Regions from separate parts of the Homo sapiens genome. Here region 2 is reported to be linked to region 1. Evidence: microRNA targets listed by miRTarBase, many of them from high-throughput screens and not tested one by one. Region 1 holds a microRNA gene; the other region holds the end of a gene's coding sequence.

Region 1 (4,148 bases):
GGGGTGGGGCTTGGAGTATCAGACCCAAGAGAGAGGCTGGACCCCGCGAATGGGATGTGGACGGGATGCGGGTCGCCGGCTGCTGGAGCAGAGCTTGGAGAAACTAAGACCTTCCCTCCCCGCCGCAGGACATTAAGAGCGGCCGCTCCCCGCTCATCCACGCCGTGGAAAACAACAGCCTTAGCATGGTGCAGCTGCTGCTGCAGGTGCGTACAGCCCCCCTGAGCCTCGCGCCCACCCTATCCTCTGACCCCAACCCGGCTCTGGCCTCAGCCCCTAGCTCTGACCCCGCCTTCCACTTCTGGCTCCGGCTCCTGCTCCGCGTCCAGCTCTGATCCTTTAAGGCCTAGTTTTCTCGACCCTCGGGCTCCACGCCCCTGGCTACGAACTTGTCCCATTCCTCCTCTGCCACCTCAACGGCCTAGGCCCCGCCCTGCGATGGCCTGGCTGACCCCGCCTTCCAGCTAGGCCCTGTCCACGCATTGTCCTTCCCCCCTCCAGCTCCCCCGACTCCTTGGGGCGCGGGCCTCGGTGTCCAGCTCCGGTTAATTCATCGCCGCCAACGCAGTCCCGCTTGGCCTGCCCTTGGCTCTCGCTCCTACCTTCCTGTGACCCCACCCCGATCCGGTGCCGCCCCACGTGCCGGCCACCCACCCGGGCCTCCAGCCTCTGTTCCCTTACCCCGGGTGGCCCGCGCGCCCTCCTGACCCGGCCCTCCCGTCCCGCAGCACGGCGCCAACGTGAACGCGCAAATGTACTCCGGCAGCTCCGCCCTGCACTCAGCGTCCGGCCGCGGGCTCCTCCCGCTGGTGCGCACGCTGGTCCGCAGCGGCGCTGACAGCAGCCTCAAGAACTGCCACAACGACACGCCGCTCATGGTGGCGCGCAGCCGCAGGGTGAGCCGGGGCAGCTGTGGACATGCCCCTTGCACACGTGTGTCCGCGGGCTGGTTGCAGGCGAGTGTGCCAGAGCGCAGAGGAGTGAGGGTGTCTGTGCCGTTGCGTGGAGGGGAGTGGGTGAGCCTCTGAAAGCGCGGGTGTGAGTTCCAGAAATGAGGAGAGACTGGCACCAAGAAAAAAAGTGCCTTGCCCATCTTTTCATACTGAGAAGTGGAGAGGCCACCACCTGGATCCAGTGAGCTAGGAGGGATGGGAGAGAGGACTGTGAGGCATGGGTGGCTCTATGGTCACGCCCATCTTCCTACAGGTCATCGACATCCTGAGGGGGAAGGCCACCCGGCCTGCTTCCACCTCCCAGCCAGACCCCTCCCCTGACCGGAGCGCCAACACCTCCCCCGAGAGCAGCAGCCGCCTCAGCTCCAATGGTGAGAAACCGTTCCCAACCTCCAGCCCTGGCGCCTCCTCCCTCAGACCCAGGAATCCCAACCCACAGCCCCTCCTCCCTCAGATCCAGGAGTCCAGGCCCCTAGCCTCCTCCCTCTGACCCAGGAATCCCAACCCATAGCCCCTCCTCCCTCAGACCCCTGGCCCCTCCTCCCTCAGACCCCAGCCCCTCCTCCTTCAGACCCCCCAGCCCCTCCTCCCTCAGACCTCAGCCCCTCCTCCCTCATACCCCCAGCCCCTCTTATCTCAAACCTCAGCCCCTCCTCCCTCAGACCCAGGAGTCCAGATTTCCAGACCCTCCTCCCTCAGACCTCAGCCCCTCCTCCCTCACACCCCCAGCCCCTCCTCCTTCTGACCCCCGGCCCCTCTTCCTTCAGACCCAGGAGTCTAGGTCCCCAGATGCCTCTTTCCTCAGACCCGGGAGTTTAAATCCCCAGCCCCTCCTCCCTCAGACCCGAGTCCAGACCCCCAGCCCCTCCTCCCTCAGACCCAGATCTCAGGCCCCAGCCCCTGCTCTCTGGGTCTAGCCTCTCACCACCCACCCCTCTGTCTCTCTTCCTTCCTCAGGTCTTCTCTCCGCATCACCATCCTCCTCACCCTCCCAGTCTCCCCCCAGGGACCCCCCTGGATTCCCCATGGCTCCTCCCAATTTCTTCCTTCCTTCCCCATCTCCACCCGCCTTCCTGCCCTTTGCTGGGGTCCTCCGAGGCCCTGGCCGGCCGGTGCCCCCCTCCCCAGCTCCAGGAGGCAGCTGAGGGGGATGGGGGGGCAGATCTTGGACTCATGAGGAGGGGCCCCCCTGCCCTGTGGGGTCAACCCTTCTGGAAACTGTGAAGATCTCACTCTGCCCCCCCCCCCCATCTTCGGGACCAGGATTTGCACAGAAGCACATGCACCTACCCATACACCCCCTCTTCTGAGCACAGATGTTCCCCCATCTCGCTCCCTCCCAGGACTCTGACCCCAGCATTCTCAGGCACCAGTCCCTGTCCGGAATGCCACCCACATCTTCCATTTCCATGTCCCCTCCCAGAGCTGGTGGACCCAGGGAACAGCCACTCCCCTCCACTCTCTACCAGATAACTGAGGAGGGGAGAGGTGGGCCGTAACGGGCACGGATCACGATGTAAATTATTAAGCATTTTGGTTGGATTTCTTTTGTAATAAACTATTTTTGTACCATATCCCTTGGGTGCATGGGCCTCTTTCATGAGATGGACCTGGCGGAAGTGCCTTCGTGTGTGTGCACACCCGTGCACTGAATCCAGTTGACTCCCAGAGTGATGTTGTGAGTCTCAGACAGACAATCTCCTGTGTGTCACTCTGGGACTTCTGGTGTGTTTGGTTGTGAATGTTGCCATCATTGTCACTGTACCATTGTTTCTAAGGAGGACGTGGTGTGTGATATCTTTTTTTTTTTTTTTTCAAGACAGAGTCTTGCTCTGTCGCCCAAGCTGGAGTGCAGTGGCACGATCTCGGCTCACTGCAACCTCCGCCTCCCCGGTTCAAGCGATTCTCCTGCCTCAGCCTCCCGAGTAGCTGGGATTACAGGTGTGCACCACCACACCTGGCTAATTTTTGTAATTTTAGTAGAGACGGGGTTTCACCATGTTGGTCAGGCTGGTCTTGAACTCCTGACCTCATGATCCTCCTGTGTCGGCCTCCCAAAGTGCTGGGATTACAGGCATGAGCCACTGCACCTGGCCGGTGTGTGATATCTTTCCAGGGCACCCTGTTGGATTCCGTAGTGACCCTGGGCATGTGTGTTTCTGTAGTGTGGGGGTCCTGGTGATAACCCACAGCTGACTTCAGCCCCAATCGTCTCTGGCTGTCCGAGTGCGTGGTGCTTGGGAGTGTTCCTAACATTGAGATCTGGGGTGATGCTGTGATTGTTGCCCTGTGACTGCCTCACATGGCGTGAGACAGTTTTACTTAGTGGTTCCATGGGGCCCCTCTAATGGACCACATCTGTGGTTTTGTTGTTGTTTTTTTGGGGGGGGATGGAGTCTCACTCTGTCACCCAGGCTGGAGTGCAATGGCGTGATCTCGGCTCACTGCAACCTCCGCCTCCTGGGTTCAAGAGATTCTCCTGCCCCAGCCTCCAGAGTAGCTGGGATTACAGGCACCCACCACCATGCCTGGCTAATTTTTGTATTTTTAGTAGAGAGGGGGTTTTGCCACATTGGCCAGGCTGGTCTCAAACTCCTGACCTCAGGCGATCTGCCTGCTTTGGCCTCCCAAAGTGCTGGGATTACAAGCGTGAGTCACCGCGCCCAGCCACACATCTGTGCTTTGACTCTGGGGTATGCCTCTGTGTGTCAGTCGGGGTTTGTAATGGTTTCCTGTTGCCACTATAACAAATCACAAATTCAGTGGCTTGAAATGATGCTAACTTTTTTTTTTTTTTTTTTAAAACAGAGTTTCACTCTGTCACCCAGGCTGGAGTGCAGTGGCACAATCTCAGCTCACTACAACCTCCACTTCCCTGGTTCAAGCCATTCTCCTACCTCAGCCTCCCAAGTAGCTGGGACTACAGGCGTGCACCACCACACCCGGTTAATTTTTTGTATTTTTACTAGTCACAGGGTTTTGACATGTTGGCCAGACTGATCTGGAACTCCTGACCTCAAGTGATCCACCCACCTCAGCCTCCCAAAGTGCTGGGATTACAAAAGGTGTGAGCCACCGTGCCAGCCAAACAATACTAATTTATTCTCTTACAGTTCTGGGCATAAGAAGTCCAAAATCGGCCGGGCGCGGTGGCTCACGCCTGTAATCCCAGCACTTTGGGAGGCCGAGGCAGGC
Region 2 (4,000 bases), not on the chromosome of region 1:
GGCAGCAGGATGGGGCGGGAGTGGGGAGAGCGAGGTCACTGTAGCCTGGGTCTCTGCAGGCACCAGCAGTCGCCTGGCAGCAAGGCCTTCCAGCGCATCCTCATCGACCACCTGCGGGCCCCGGACACCCTCACCACTGTGTTCTTCCCAGGTATGCGGTGGACCCCCACTCACTGTGGCCCTGGAGGGGCAGTGGGCTCCTGAGGGCTCCTGACCCCCTGCCTCTGACCCCCAGCCTCCTGGTGGATAATGAATAACAACTGAGCCAGACCTGCACACGCCGAGGGCCCCGGGACCCTGCCTGCCTCCCTCTGGAGCCTTCTGGACTGGCCAGCCCAGCGCAAAGACCAGGACTTGTCTCCTCCTGGACTTGGGCCTGGTGGAAGGGCTCTCAGCCCAGGGATCAGGGACTGGGCTGCTTGCTTTCTATTTATTATTGATTTATTTATCCCTGTATTTTATTGTTTGTCACTTCAGCCTCCAAGCTACTTTGGCTTCTGCCTGGCTCAGGAGACCTGGATTCTGGTCCCTGCTGTCCCTGCCTGGCTGAGCGACCCAGGGCAGGTCCCGTCCCTGTCTGGGTGGGCCTCAGGCCATCTGGCCGCCTAGCGAGGGTCCTGCTTTCTTCCTGCTGTCTTGGGACCAGGCTTCTGCTCCTCCTCAGCCAGCGGCAGAAGCAGGGCTGATGCTCAGGGACCCCCCAACCCTCAAACCTTGCCTCCGAGGCTGGGCCTGAGCTGGGTGCCCCGTCGCCCTCCCAGGCCACTAGGCTCTGACTCTTCCAGCACCCATGGATGTGCCAGAGGCCTCTGGGTTGGTTTGCATGTCATTTGCATATCGTTTGCATGCCCTCATCCCACCCATTCTCAGGGCAGTATGGGAAGCCCCAAGGTGACCTGGCCAAGTAGCAATAATTTGGGTCCAGGGTCACCTATTGCCCCCAGAGGCCTCTGAACCCCAGGCTGGGACCCCAGCACAGAGGCAATAAAGGCAGTGGTCCCTTCCAGTGTTGCCTCCTGTCTCGCAGGTCTGGGCTGTGGGGCCTGTGCGCCTCCCAGGCCAGAAGCTCCAGGCAGGGCACCTCTCTTGGGAAGCCCCCGGGTTCCCACCTTGTGCCCTCACGCTCGCAGAGTGGATGCTCACAAGAGCTGACGCAAGTTTTCCCACTTCAGGGTCCCTGGCCCTGACACACCCTGGTGCTGGGTCCTGCCTGAGGGAGGGGGTGACGTGTCTCTGCAGGTTTTATAGGGGTTCTGGCTTCACCCACACAGAGCCTCCTCTGGGCCCAGATCGCTCCTGTGGGAAGACCTGTCCTCACCAAGCTGGACTTGTCACTGCCACCCCACATAGAGTGGTTCCAGTTGGACAATGGCTGAGTCAGTCCTACTAGCCCCTGGGGGTGTCCTCCTGCCCCCCTCCATTACTGGGGGCATGGAGGGGAGGTGACCAAGAGGGACATCTAAGCAGCTGCTCTGAAGAGGAGGCCCCTGGCACCACAGAAGCACAGGATGGCATTTGACCTGGCCTGGGAGTGTTGGCGTCAGTTTTCCAGACAGAGGAGACGGCACATGGGCTCTGAGGAGAAGGAGGGCTTGCCTGGTTGAACCAAGGGTGACCCAGTAGCGGGGCTGAGCTGGGGGTGCCAGGGGGAGAGGGCTGGGTGAGGCTGGGCCTCTGAGGTGCTACATCCCAAGGAGGCCATGGGAGGCTTTAATTCGGGGTGAGGGGGTGGCCGGTGGGTTGAGTGCCCTTTCCATGTTCCTGAACGCCCTGGTGTTGCCAGGTCCTTACTGGGCTGAGGCCTGGCTACAAGGCAACTCAGATGGCACCAGTTCAGGGTGGGCATTCCCATCTGGGACTCCAGGCAGGGTCTTCCCTGCGGTTTCTCCCTGGCAGCCCCTGTGGGAGACAGTTTCTTCCACCAGCCTGGCTCCCTGGGCCACCTGCACAGAGGTCCCTGCTGGCACCCTGGCCAGTCCAGTGCCAGGCCGTCCTCCCGCCACCCCGCTTCCCAGATCTCTGGGAGCTCCTAGAAAGTGCTGCCACCATCTGAACCACATGGGGCTCTGAGCAGGCTTGAGGCTTGTTCGGGTGTAGTTGTGTGTGCCTGTAATTCCAGCTACTTGGGAGGCTGAGGCAGGAGAATCGCTTGAGCCCAGGAGGCGGAGGTTGCAGTGAGCCAAGGACTACAGGCGCACACTACCACGCCCAGCTAATTTTTGTAGAGATGGGGGTTTCGCCATGTTGCCCAGGCTGGGCAGTGTGTCTTGTTAGAGAAGACAGCTGAGGAGGACATCGCCCTGCTTTACGTCCTGTGTTGTAAAGGCTTCTTTTGTCCTCCACAAAAACTGTAGCAACAAATCCTCAAAACTAAAAAAACTTCCCTCTGCCATCTTTATTTATTATTGTTATTTTTTGAGACGGAGTTGCTCTGTCGCCCAGCCTGGAGTGCAGTGGTGCGATCTTGGCTCACTGACCCTCTGCCTCCTGAATTCAAGCGATTCTCCTGCCTCAGCCTCCCCAGTAGCTGGAATTACAGGCACACACAACTACACCTGGCTAATTTTTTTTGTATTTTTAGTAGAGATGGGGTTTCACCATGTTGGCCAGGCTGGTCTTGAACTGCTGTCCCCAAGTGATCTGCACACCTTGGCCTCCCAAAGTGCCGGGATTACAGGCATGAGCCACTGTGCCCAGCCCACTGCCATCTTTAGACATGCCCAAGCCCTCAGGCTGACTTATCTGTGGTGGGCGTCTCCTTAGTTTTTGTGCCCTGGGCACCCTGCCTGCCTCGCCCTGCAGTGCAGTTCTGAAGGTGGACACCTCTTTATTACAATTTTTAATAAGAAAGGCTGTGTCCTCCCTCCTGAAAGCTGGAGCTGCAGAGGAGGGCACGCAGGCAGGGATGTCCAGCAGGGTCAGGGGGCCTCTTAGGACAGTGTTTGGTTTGAGCTGTGGAAGTAGAGCAGAGGTCTCCGGGCAGGTGCGAGGGCAGAAGGGATCCTTGGAGTGTGAGGGCTGGGGCGAGCTGAGGAGGCCGGGTGCATGGGAGTGGAATGTTGTCTTGCAGGTGACAGGGAGACAGGAGGGTCCCAGACAGGGAGTGGGTGGGGGTGGAGCTGAGCGCAGACATGGCTGGAGCTGCAGCCACAGAACAGACGTCTGAGCTGGGCTGGGGCTGTGGGGACCTGGAGGAAGCCCTCAAGCCTCTGCCTTGTCTGTCGATCTCACGAGCCCACCTCATCTGTAGCCTGCCATCCCCACCATTGTGCCTCGCCCCAGCCCCCAAGTCAGGGCCACCGTCCTCTCTGGCGTGGAAGACTGCAGCAACTTCTTTACCTGGCTCCCACCCCGTCCATTCCCTGTAAAGACACAGCCAGAGGCGGCTTTCGAAATGTTGCCATTTTGAAAAACGCACCTCTGGCCAAGACCCTTCAATGGCACCCACTGCCTTCAGCATCAAGGTCATAATTTCATGTCCTGGCAGCCAAGGCTGGGCCATTTACAACCCCAGTCACCCTGTCTGTGGCTTTTGTCCCAAGCCACCCGTCCGCCACAGAAACGCTTCCACTGTAAGGAGCAGGTGAGTGCCATTGTGCTGGGGCGCCTTTCCCAATCCTGCGCTGGGCACCTGCTTTGTGGCAGGTGCTGGGGATGATCAAATGTTCTGGGCTGGTGACAGCACTCGGTCAAGGGCAGGCAGAGCCCTGAAGTCAGGAGAGCTCCGGGCTCATTGGCCAGCTGCCGCCCCCACCCTTCCACCCACTCCCTGCACCTGTCCTCTCCCCTTCCTCACACCTGCACCTGTGACTCACCTGTAAATATTCAAACCTGTCCCAGGGATTGGCTCAGTGCCAGGCCAGGCTGGAGATAGCAACAGTCTAGATGGTGGCCAATGCCCTACAGCTCTCCTAACAAGTCCCCTTAACACAGTCTCTTATGAGCCGAAAGGGACTGAGAATTAGGTGGTCTTCAAAAAATTATTCTCGAAACATACTAC

The links. Region 1 holds the annotated microRNA hsa-miR-8085 (UGGGAGAGAGGACUGUGAGGC, at 1,150-1,170, shown strand). A microRNA usually pairs through its seed, bases 2 to 8, with sites in the 3' UTR of a target mRNA and lowers its output. Matches are read on the target gene's strand: a 7mer-m8 pairs with bases 2 to 8, a 7mer-A1 pairs with bases 2 to 7 and ends in A, and an 8mer does both.
Region 2: miRTarBase lists NECAB3 as a target of hsa-miR-8085. The part of its 3' UTR that is shown has no 7-base or 8-base seed match.

Annotation. Positions count from the first base shown.
Region 1 is chr19:44,757,518-44,761,665 of GRCh38, forward strand. It overlaps MIR8085 (microRNA 8085), which reads left to right and starts at 1,140; the gene lies at 1,140-1,204. It overlaps BCL3 (BCL3 transcription coactivator), which reads left to right. Exons shown (of 9, transcript NM_005178.5): 6 at 129-206; 7 at 729-896; 8 at 1,207-1,324; 9 at 1,911-2,527. The coding sequence ends at 2,098. RefSeq lists an enhancer at 1,077-1,726.
Region 2 is chr20:33,654,093-33,658,092 of GRCh38, reverse strand. NECAB3 (N-terminal EF-hand calcium binding protein 3) reads left to right here. Exons shown (of 12, transcript NM_031232.4): 11 at 60-151; 12 at 236-1,006. The coding sequence ends at 264. Among named protein-coding and RNA genes, the nearest start is that of C20orf144, 6.2 kb to the left of the region's middle. RefSeq lists an enhancer at 1,298-1,798.